Regions from separate parts of the Homo sapiens genome. Here regions 2 and 3 are each linked to region 1. The links come from fine-mapping of genetic effects on gene expression. A gene starts in region 1. Each other region holds a variant in brackets. All regions are shown on one strand. Distances are between the middles of the regions. Region 1 holds the start of CDCA7L (cell division cycle associated 7 like). Region 2 overlaps DNAH11 (dynein axonemal heavy chain 11). Region 3 overlaps DNAH11 (dynein axonemal heavy chain 11).

Region 1 (2,852 bases):
TCTTTGCCGCCAGACTCGGGCAGGTGACAGCGGTTTGGGCTCGGGCGCCGGGCACTCTGCGCCTTCCAACGCTGGCGGCCCCGCCTCCCCTTCTCCCGGGCCAGGCACGCAGGTGGAGGAAAGTAAACACCAGTCGGAAGCAAGGTGGAAGCAGTGAGTCTCGCGACTCTCAATAAAACAAGTGGAAAAAAAAAAAAAAACAATCCTCGCACAAAGCATCTCCGTGCTCCCACAAGCAGAGGCGTGGCTGCTTGTTTCCCTTTTTAAAGGTTGTATTTTTAGTTCTTATGAAAAATGTTTTTATTGCTTACTTCTAAGTAAACATGTATCTCCATTACGATAACGTAGAGAAAAGCTCTTTTAAGAAGTAAAAAGAGAAAACTGAAGTCACGTTCACATTCCCACTACTCACTGAAACGTTTGGGGGAACTTACTCAAGTGTTTGCTAATGAGTTTTAAAGACGAGTTAGGCCCTTAACGCGTAATTGGGGTCGTGCTGTGCATATGATTTGGGATCTTGCAGCTTGTTTAACTCGGCCCAATGACGTTACCATTTCCCCCAAATGGTTACTAATTCCTTGAAAACGTTTACAAAAGTTCTAGAATAAACACTAAAGTTATTATTTTTAAACTCCATTATCCAAGTTGGACTGGTCTGGCGATCGACTGTTAAAAAAAAAAAATTACAACTTTCTTAAGCTTCCTGATCTCTGTGCCAATTCCCGGAGAAAGTGTGGGGAGTGCACAAAAAAAGCCCCTCCCCCGTCTCACGAGGGCTGCAAACGCAGGCGCTGCGCCCCGCTAGCTCCCCGCCTGCACCCCCGGCGGCCACCCGAGACTGAGCAGAGCGCCAGGCTGAGCGCGGTTGTGTGCTGGGGCGACCGGCCTCTGTGGTCCGCGTAGCACAAACGTGACCCACTGCGCACACCTGCAGGGCGCGCCCACTCCGGCACTCAACCGGCTGGGCGCGCCAGATCCCCAGTGCCGCAGCCAAGGGCCACGTTTCCAGCCCAAGGCCAGCAGGACCGGGTGGCAAAGGGAAGTCAAACTGTGGGTGCGTCCGGACGGCGGCGGGCGGCCGGACCCTCACCTGGTAGCGAGTCGCCAACTCCATTCTTCCTAACCGGGCTCCAGTCTCCTCCCAGCACGCGGCCACGGGAGCCCGGACTCACCACGGCCCGGCGCACCAAGAACGCCCCGCGCCCGAGCAGCTAGCGCGCTCCGCCCGGAGCACAGGCGGGCCCCGGGAGGGGCGCACTTGACGCCCTGGACAGGGGGAGCGCGTTGCGCTGCCCCCTCGGTGCCGCCTCACTGGGCCTCGTGGCTCCGATCACGTTCCAACTTCGCGGCCACTGACCTTGTCTTCGCAGGCGGCGCGAGAGGGGGCTGCAGTTGGGCGCGGCAAGAGCAATTACCAGTGTTAGGGCGCCGGGCTCCCCCCTGCAGCAGAGGGAGGGAGTGGAGCCGTCCGGCGGGGTTTAGCGCGGGAGAAATGAGGGGGCTGTCCCGGCGCAGCCTCCAGCTGGCACGCGCGCTGGATACTTGGCAGGGTTTATTCCAGGTCATGCCCTGGGGCGCGAGCTTCTGCTGCAACCCCTGTCTCTGATCCAGGCAAATATTGTAGGGCGGCTTTGGGGCTTGTTTTGTTTTGTTGTTGTAACGGGGCAGGGTTCTCTTTGGGAAGATTCTGTCTCCCAAAACATTTGCTACAGGGTTCACTTTGCAGAACAGGCAACCCAGGTTTCTTTACCAAGGCCCAGGTGGACAGATGCAAACCCGCCTGAAACTTTAGACGGCCATTACACAGTAGGCCTCCACACCCACCAGACAAAGAGTTTGTAGAGGTCAGGAATGCTGACTAATTTAACAGAATTGACCCCGGCATCTACTAAGCATCAGGCACTGGGCTAGTCCTAGGAACAGAAGGGTGAACAAAAACAGGCCCCTGCTCTGTTGGAGTTTACAGCCTGAGAGCCAGTTACCAACCTAATTGCATTATTCTAAATAAATACAATAATGATGCAAATAAGTGTAATAACGATGTAAATTTTATAAATTAGATTTATAATTAATATTAATTTGATACCACTATCAATGACAAATGTAATGATGATGCAAATAAATGTAAATTTGGAGCGATGATGCCATGAGAAAAAAGGCAAGTGGTATTAATGGTGGTGTGAAATAGGAAGACAATCTGATAGAGGTCAGGGAATACTTCTTAGAGTTCAGATATGAAGAGTGAGGAATTAAGTTTGTGGAAATTGTGGGAGAGTTGAAGTAGAGAGTGGGGAGAATGGTAAATGAAGTTGTCCTGAAATCACAGCAGGTTTGCTGGACAGTGTTGCACACCTATTTAGAACCGTGGTCATAGGTTTACAGTAGAGCATCCTGTACGCATAGGACCTTCTGCAGCCCCTCTCAGCTGCTTAGGATCTGACGTTCATCTTTTCTTTATTGAACGAGTGAATGAAATTTGCCAAACATTTACTCAAGCTTGAAGAGAAAACATGGAAAAGGTTTCCTTCCTTCCTTTGGTTAGTTCAGCAAACAACATGTGTTATGTGCTTTCATGTTCCAGCCCTCAGTGTTCTCACTTCCTGGTGGTAGTAAAACCAATACAACATTGTGTGACTTAAAATGTTTTGTTTTTATTGGATAATGTTATTTATTCATTATGGCCACTTCATTTTTATTATGCTTTAGAGTTTTCCTTCACATGCAGTATCTCCTTGAATCCTCTCAATATCCTTCCAGATCCTTATTGTCCACATTTTTAAAATAAGGAAACAGAATCTAAGAAAATACATTAAGAGATCCCTGCCACCCTGCCACTAAGTGACAGCAGCAGA
Region 2 (2,500 bases), 58 kb before region 1:
CCCAGTTATTTTGTTCTCATGCACGTTTCTCCTGTTTATGCTGTTTATATGATTAGCAACATGATCTAACACTTCATCTGCAGGACATCTTTTTGCCACTTCCCACAAGTGGTTAACATATTTGGAAATTAGTGTCTTTGGTTGCATTGGAACATGATCAAAAAGCAACCCATTCATGGTGTGGGGTTTAAAGTTCTGCTGCTCTTATCCAAAGAATCAGAATGCTTTCAGTGATATCTTGCTGTTAGGAGGATCAGTGAGTTTCTTGTTGAATAAATGAGTTTGCTCTCAGAGAGAGTTCTCCAGTGGGCTTTAGAGGGTCTCTGGCCAAAGTCAAGAAAGAAAACATCTTCTCACATAAAGCATGTATTTGGCAGCGTTAATTAAGAAATACAGTAAATCACTTTCAGAGAATAAGGTACCAGGTCACCTTAAAGTTATCATATAATACAAACTATTTTAGTAATATAGAATAACAAGAATCTGGGGTTTGAAGTAAAAAACAAAGACAAAAAACACCTGGGTTCACACTGAAGTACCTCTATGTATTTGCCGTATGATGTAATTGACCCTCTCTTAGCCTTGGTTTCATAATCTACAAAACCAGAATGATCAACTTACAGGTTTGCTGTCAGGTTTAAACTTTGGTACAATGCTAGAACAATATGCTTAATAAATGGGAAATCTTTTTATTATAAAGTATACATTTTCATTATATATATTTAATATTTGGCTATACATTAATCTGTGATAACAATGGGAATCCTTTAGTAAATACCTGCTCTGTGCCAAGGGTCATTACCACACACTTTATATGTATGATTTCTTCTCACTATAATCTGGAAGAGTAAGTATTATTCCATTTAATCAAAAAAGAACCTCAGGCTTAGAGAGGTCAAGCAGCTGAACCAGAATTTAAACTCGTAATCAGACTCCAAAGGCTGGTCTTTCTCTGCACCATACTGCCCTGGCTGGAGTGCTGAGCTGTTTGCAGCACAGGTCACCAAAACAATGACTCGTATTTGTATGTAGATGGTGTACAGGCCAACACTGAGAACAACACGGGCAATACGGGAGACCAGAGTTCTGGTTCTGCTACTGACTTGCTGTCTGGCTTTGTGCATGGCTTCCCTGTGCCTCACTTCATTCATTTATAAAATTAAGGTATTGCCTAGAAAATCACCAATGTACCTTTTCATTCTCAAGACACCATGATAATTCAATCTTGAGTAATGTCTAAAAATCCCTAACAGCACTTTGGGGCCATGGCATTTTTGACCCAGAAGGCCAAGGGCAAATGCATTTGTTTAAATTCACAATGAACTGGAGCTTCTTGTCATTACCAACACTACTTGGAGAGGCAGTGGAGTGGGGGTCGGTTTTTGTTAAATACCAGAAAGGAAAATATAAAAAAGACAATAATCTCATGGAGTCCAACATAGTGGGCTGGATGCTGGTTCTCCAGTTTCTAATAACTGTGCCTGC[C/A]CCTGATTTCAACAAAGATGATTTCAATTTTTTTTTTCTTTCTTTTTGAGACAGAGCCTTGTTCTGTCGCCCAGGCTGGAGTGCAGTGGTGTGATCTCGGCTCACTGCAACCTCCACCTTCCAGATTCAAGTCATTCTCCTGTCTCAGCCTCCTGAGTAGCTGGGATTACAGGCATGTGCCACCACGCTGGGCTAATTTTCGTATTTTTAGTAGAGATGGGGTTTCACCATGTTAGTCAGGCTGGTCTTGAACTCCTGACCTCATGATCTGCCCACCTCGGCCTCCCAAAGTGCTGGGATTACAGGCATGAGCCACCATGCCTGGCCGAAAATATCATCCAAATTTTTGATTATATTTTCATGATGTGGAGGTTCTTTCTGCCTGAGCATGATTCTATCGATTCTTTTTGTTTTTAAAAAAGGTTTTACTAAGATATAATTTGCACACTGTAACATTTACCAATTTAAATTATACAACTCAAAGGTCTTTAGTATATTCTGCAACCATTACAAGTTTTAGAACAGTTTATTACCCACGCCCCACCCACCCAAAAAAAAAAACCCTGCAGCCATTAGCAGTCAGGCACCATTTGTTTCCCACCCCATATTCCCCTATACCCCAGCCCATGGCAGCTACTAATCTATTTTCTGTCTCTATAGATTTGCATGTTCTGGGCATTTTTAAAAATGGACTCATACAATATGTAGCCTTCTTTCACTTGGCATAATGTTTTCAAGCTTCAGCCATGCTGTAGCATATATCAGTACTCAATTCCTTTTAAGTCTGAATAATGTTCCATTGTATGGACATAGCACATTTTGTTTATCTCATCTGTCAGTGGACATTTGGGTTGTTTCTCCTTCTTGGCTATTATGAATAATGCTGCTATGAACTTTTATGTACAAATTTTGTGTGGACATATGTTTTCAATTCTTTCGGATATGTACCTTGGAGTGGAATTGCTGGGCCAAGTGATAACTCTATGTTTATCATTTGCAAGTACCACCAAACTGT
Region 3 (2,852 bases), 44 kb before region 1:
TTGCAACCGCTGTGTTTTTGCCATAGGCGCCCGCTGGGACACCCAAGCAGGAACCATTGTTGAAGCCCGTCTCAAGGAGCTGGCATGCCCTATGCCGGTCATCTTTGCAAAAGCCACCCCCGTGGACAGACAAGAAACCAAACAGACCTACGAGTGCCCTGTGTATAGAACCAAACTGAGAGGCCCCAGCTACATCTGGACCTTCAGGCTGAAGAGCGAAGAGAAGACTGCAAAATGGGTTCTGGCTGGAGTGGCTCTGCTTCTAGAAGCGTAAGGTAACACTGGCATTCCTCTAGCCTCTGCTGGAGTGCAGTGAGGATTTTCTAGCATGTTGCTGCACTGTTCCCATGCACATTATTCTAACTTTTTAGTAACTCACACGTGCATTCTTTTTTCAACGCTATCCTTAGAGTGAAAGTCAGAAAAAAATACTAGAAACTAACTCAGGGCTGAGCGTGGTGGCACACGACTGTAATCCCAGTTACTCAGGAGGTAGGAGAATCACTTGAACCTAGGAGGCAAAGGTTGCAGTGAGCCGAGGTTGCACCACTGCACTCCCTCCTGGGCAACAGAACAAGACTCCATCTCAAAAAAAAAAAAGTACATCATAAAAGTACATCATATGTGAACATGCAAAAGCAATGCAGCCGGAAAGAACGGAGATTTTAATTTTTAACAAACAACAAATTAAATTATTAGCCCTTAAACTCTTTCAAAATATAAAAGCAGCAGGCCCCAGGTGAGTCCTGAAGGAAGAGGCTAGCACTCTGTAAGGCCTCCAGTGTCCAGTGTCTACAATGTTGATGGTCCCCTTTTGTTCAGTCAAGTTTTAATAAAAATAAAACTGTTCTACAGTTAATTGCACTTTGTTCAGTGTAAATTTCCAATGACCAAGAGCAGGTTAAACGATGTGTGTGGTCTATTAAACTGTGGTCACTCGTGCTAAGGCACACTTGGCCTGGAGTGAGTTACTGTTTGGGAAGCCAAAGATAGATAGATCAAGTGCAGGAGCTGATCATACAATGTTTTCTCTCTAACTTACTTACCTGAACTTTAACCCCACCCCATTTAAACTGTGCTTTTTAATAACTGGCAGATATTTTTAACAAAGTTCAGCATACAGACAGGTCTGTGCATACATCTATATAGATTCCTCTGCTCTGCTGTCTTCCTGAGAAATCTTTGTAAGCATATAAACAATCTTTAACAAAAAATAGTAATTTCTACAAAGAATTTCTGTATAAAAACACAACTGTAAAAAA[ATCTT/A]TCTTAGGCACCAATGGTATGCATGTCTTGTTGGAGTACTCTATGGTGAGGTGGCTGGTTCTGTTTGTTTTCCTCTTAATTGTCTTCTACCAGCTCCTTTTGTAAGCTGGGAAAAAGATGAGAAGTATTTGGTAAAGTAGTACAAATACACAAATGGCATTCTAGGCTTGAGAGATTCCACAATCATCTAAGAGTACAAAGCCAGAACCCAGATCTCCTGACACTCGAAATCCTGACAATTTATGCATCAATATCCGTATACCCTCTGGTGTAGTACGCCCCAAGCATGACTTGCCTCACTCCCGCATTCCAGAACCACGATTCAGAGTTTATTAATTACATAAATGAAACTTGTAACTCACATTCTGTCCTCTTGCCCTGAACTCTCTCTCTGCACTAGGATTATGGCTGCCTCTTCATAATCTGTGTCTTTCCCCTCAGCCTGCCTTGTTTGTTTGTTCCTTCCATTTCTGTCATACACCTCAAGGAGAAATTTTGGTTAAAGGCAACGTGGAGTTGAGTTGAAAAATCTAGCAAAGGAGAAGATTCCCTAATAGGGAAAATATCAGGCCTGAGCTTTTCCAATGCAAACAGATACAGAATGGATGGTACTCGTGGTTTATATAAGTAAGTAAGTCACACGGGAAGGCAACAACTACTTGCCCAGAGGGTCTCCTGTGCTCAGCCTCAAGATTTCAAGCTGTTTTGTAAGCTGCTAGAGACTTACTTACCTCTCCAGATATTCCTTAACATTGTCATAACCATAAAACTTGGCCAGATGAATGAGGATTCCTGTGGCACAGCGGCCGTCACGCTTCCGACAGTAGCTGCAATTGCAGATCCCACGACAGGGGGGACACACCCAATCCTAACAGAGAGATGACAGCAGACACTTCGCTCATTATCTACAGGGTCTGGCAAGAACTGGGATTCGGATCCAGAATGGCTCAGCTGGCCTCTCCTCCAACCTTTAATCACATGGCATCTTTCAGTCTACGTCCCAGGGGGCTCCTCACAAGGCAGGAAGGCTGAATCACCCCACGTCACATGCAAACACTGAAAAATGACACCTTTTAGGGCTCCTTGCTTAAAAATTATGGAGATTTTCACAAGCATTTGGCCAAGCACAGGGCCCTGTGCGAGCATGCAGGTCACAGGCCCAGGATGTCAGCCCTGGTTTAGGAGCACAAGGTTTCCAAAATATCAAGGTATGAATTTCAGCCCTTTCAATGTGTGCTTATTGTTGAATGACTAACCTGAGCAGCAGTTTGTTTGTCTGTCAGTTGAGGACCATATATTTACCCCATGACTGCTGCCTAAGAGGTCACACTCGGGAGCAGGACTGCCCCAGGCTCAAGGTCGTGCCTACTCACCATGATACTATGTCTCATTTTACCGAGGGAGCTGAGAGAGGTTATACACCTATTTCATGGGATTAAACAAATTTATGGTAACAGAGTGAGCGACAGCTTGCACAGTGCCAGGCACACAGAGAGCACTCTATACTGCAATCTCCACCTCCCTCTCAGCCTGGCCCAGGAAAAACAAAACAAATCAGAGGGAAATCACTTTGCTGAAGGACAGGT

What was found. PIP is the estimated chance that this variant, and not a neighbour inherited with it, causes the effect.
Region 2: its variant is fine-mapped to the expression of CDCA7L in blood mononuclear cells (TOPMed, PIP above 0.99).
Region 3: its variant is fine-mapped to the expression of CDCA7L in esophagus muscle (GTEx, PIP 0.93).

The regions. Positions count from the first base shown.
Region 1 is chr7:21,944,691-21,947,542 of GRCh38, forward strand. CDCA7L (cell division cycle associated 7 like) reads right to left here and starts at 1,209. Exons shown (of 10, transcript NM_018719.5): 1 at 1,091-1,209. The coding sequence starts at 1,114. RefSeq lists a silencer at 828-877 and enhancers at 1,018-1,167, 1,163-1,873, 1,558-1,807.
Region 2 is chr7:21,886,976-21,889,475 of GRCh38, forward strand. The region is part of intron 76 of DNAH11 (dynein axonemal heavy chain 11); the gene reads left to right. Among named protein-coding and RNA genes, the nearest start is that of CDCA7L, 58 kb to the right of the region's middle. The variant C/A (reference allele first, on the strand shown) is at 1,486.
Region 3 is chr7:21,900,981-21,903,832 of GRCh38, forward strand. It overlaps DNAH11 (dynein axonemal heavy chain 11), which reads left to right. Exons shown (of 82, transcript NM_001277115.2): 82 at 27-859. The coding sequence ends at 274. CDCA7L (cell division cycle associated 7 like) reads right to left here. Exons shown (of 10, transcript NM_018719.5): 9 at 1,998-2,134; 10 at 1-1,372. The coding sequence ends at 1,342. Among named protein-coding and RNA genes, the nearest start is that of CDCA7L, 43 kb to the right of the region's middle. The variant ATCTT/A (reference allele first, on the strand shown) is at 1,263.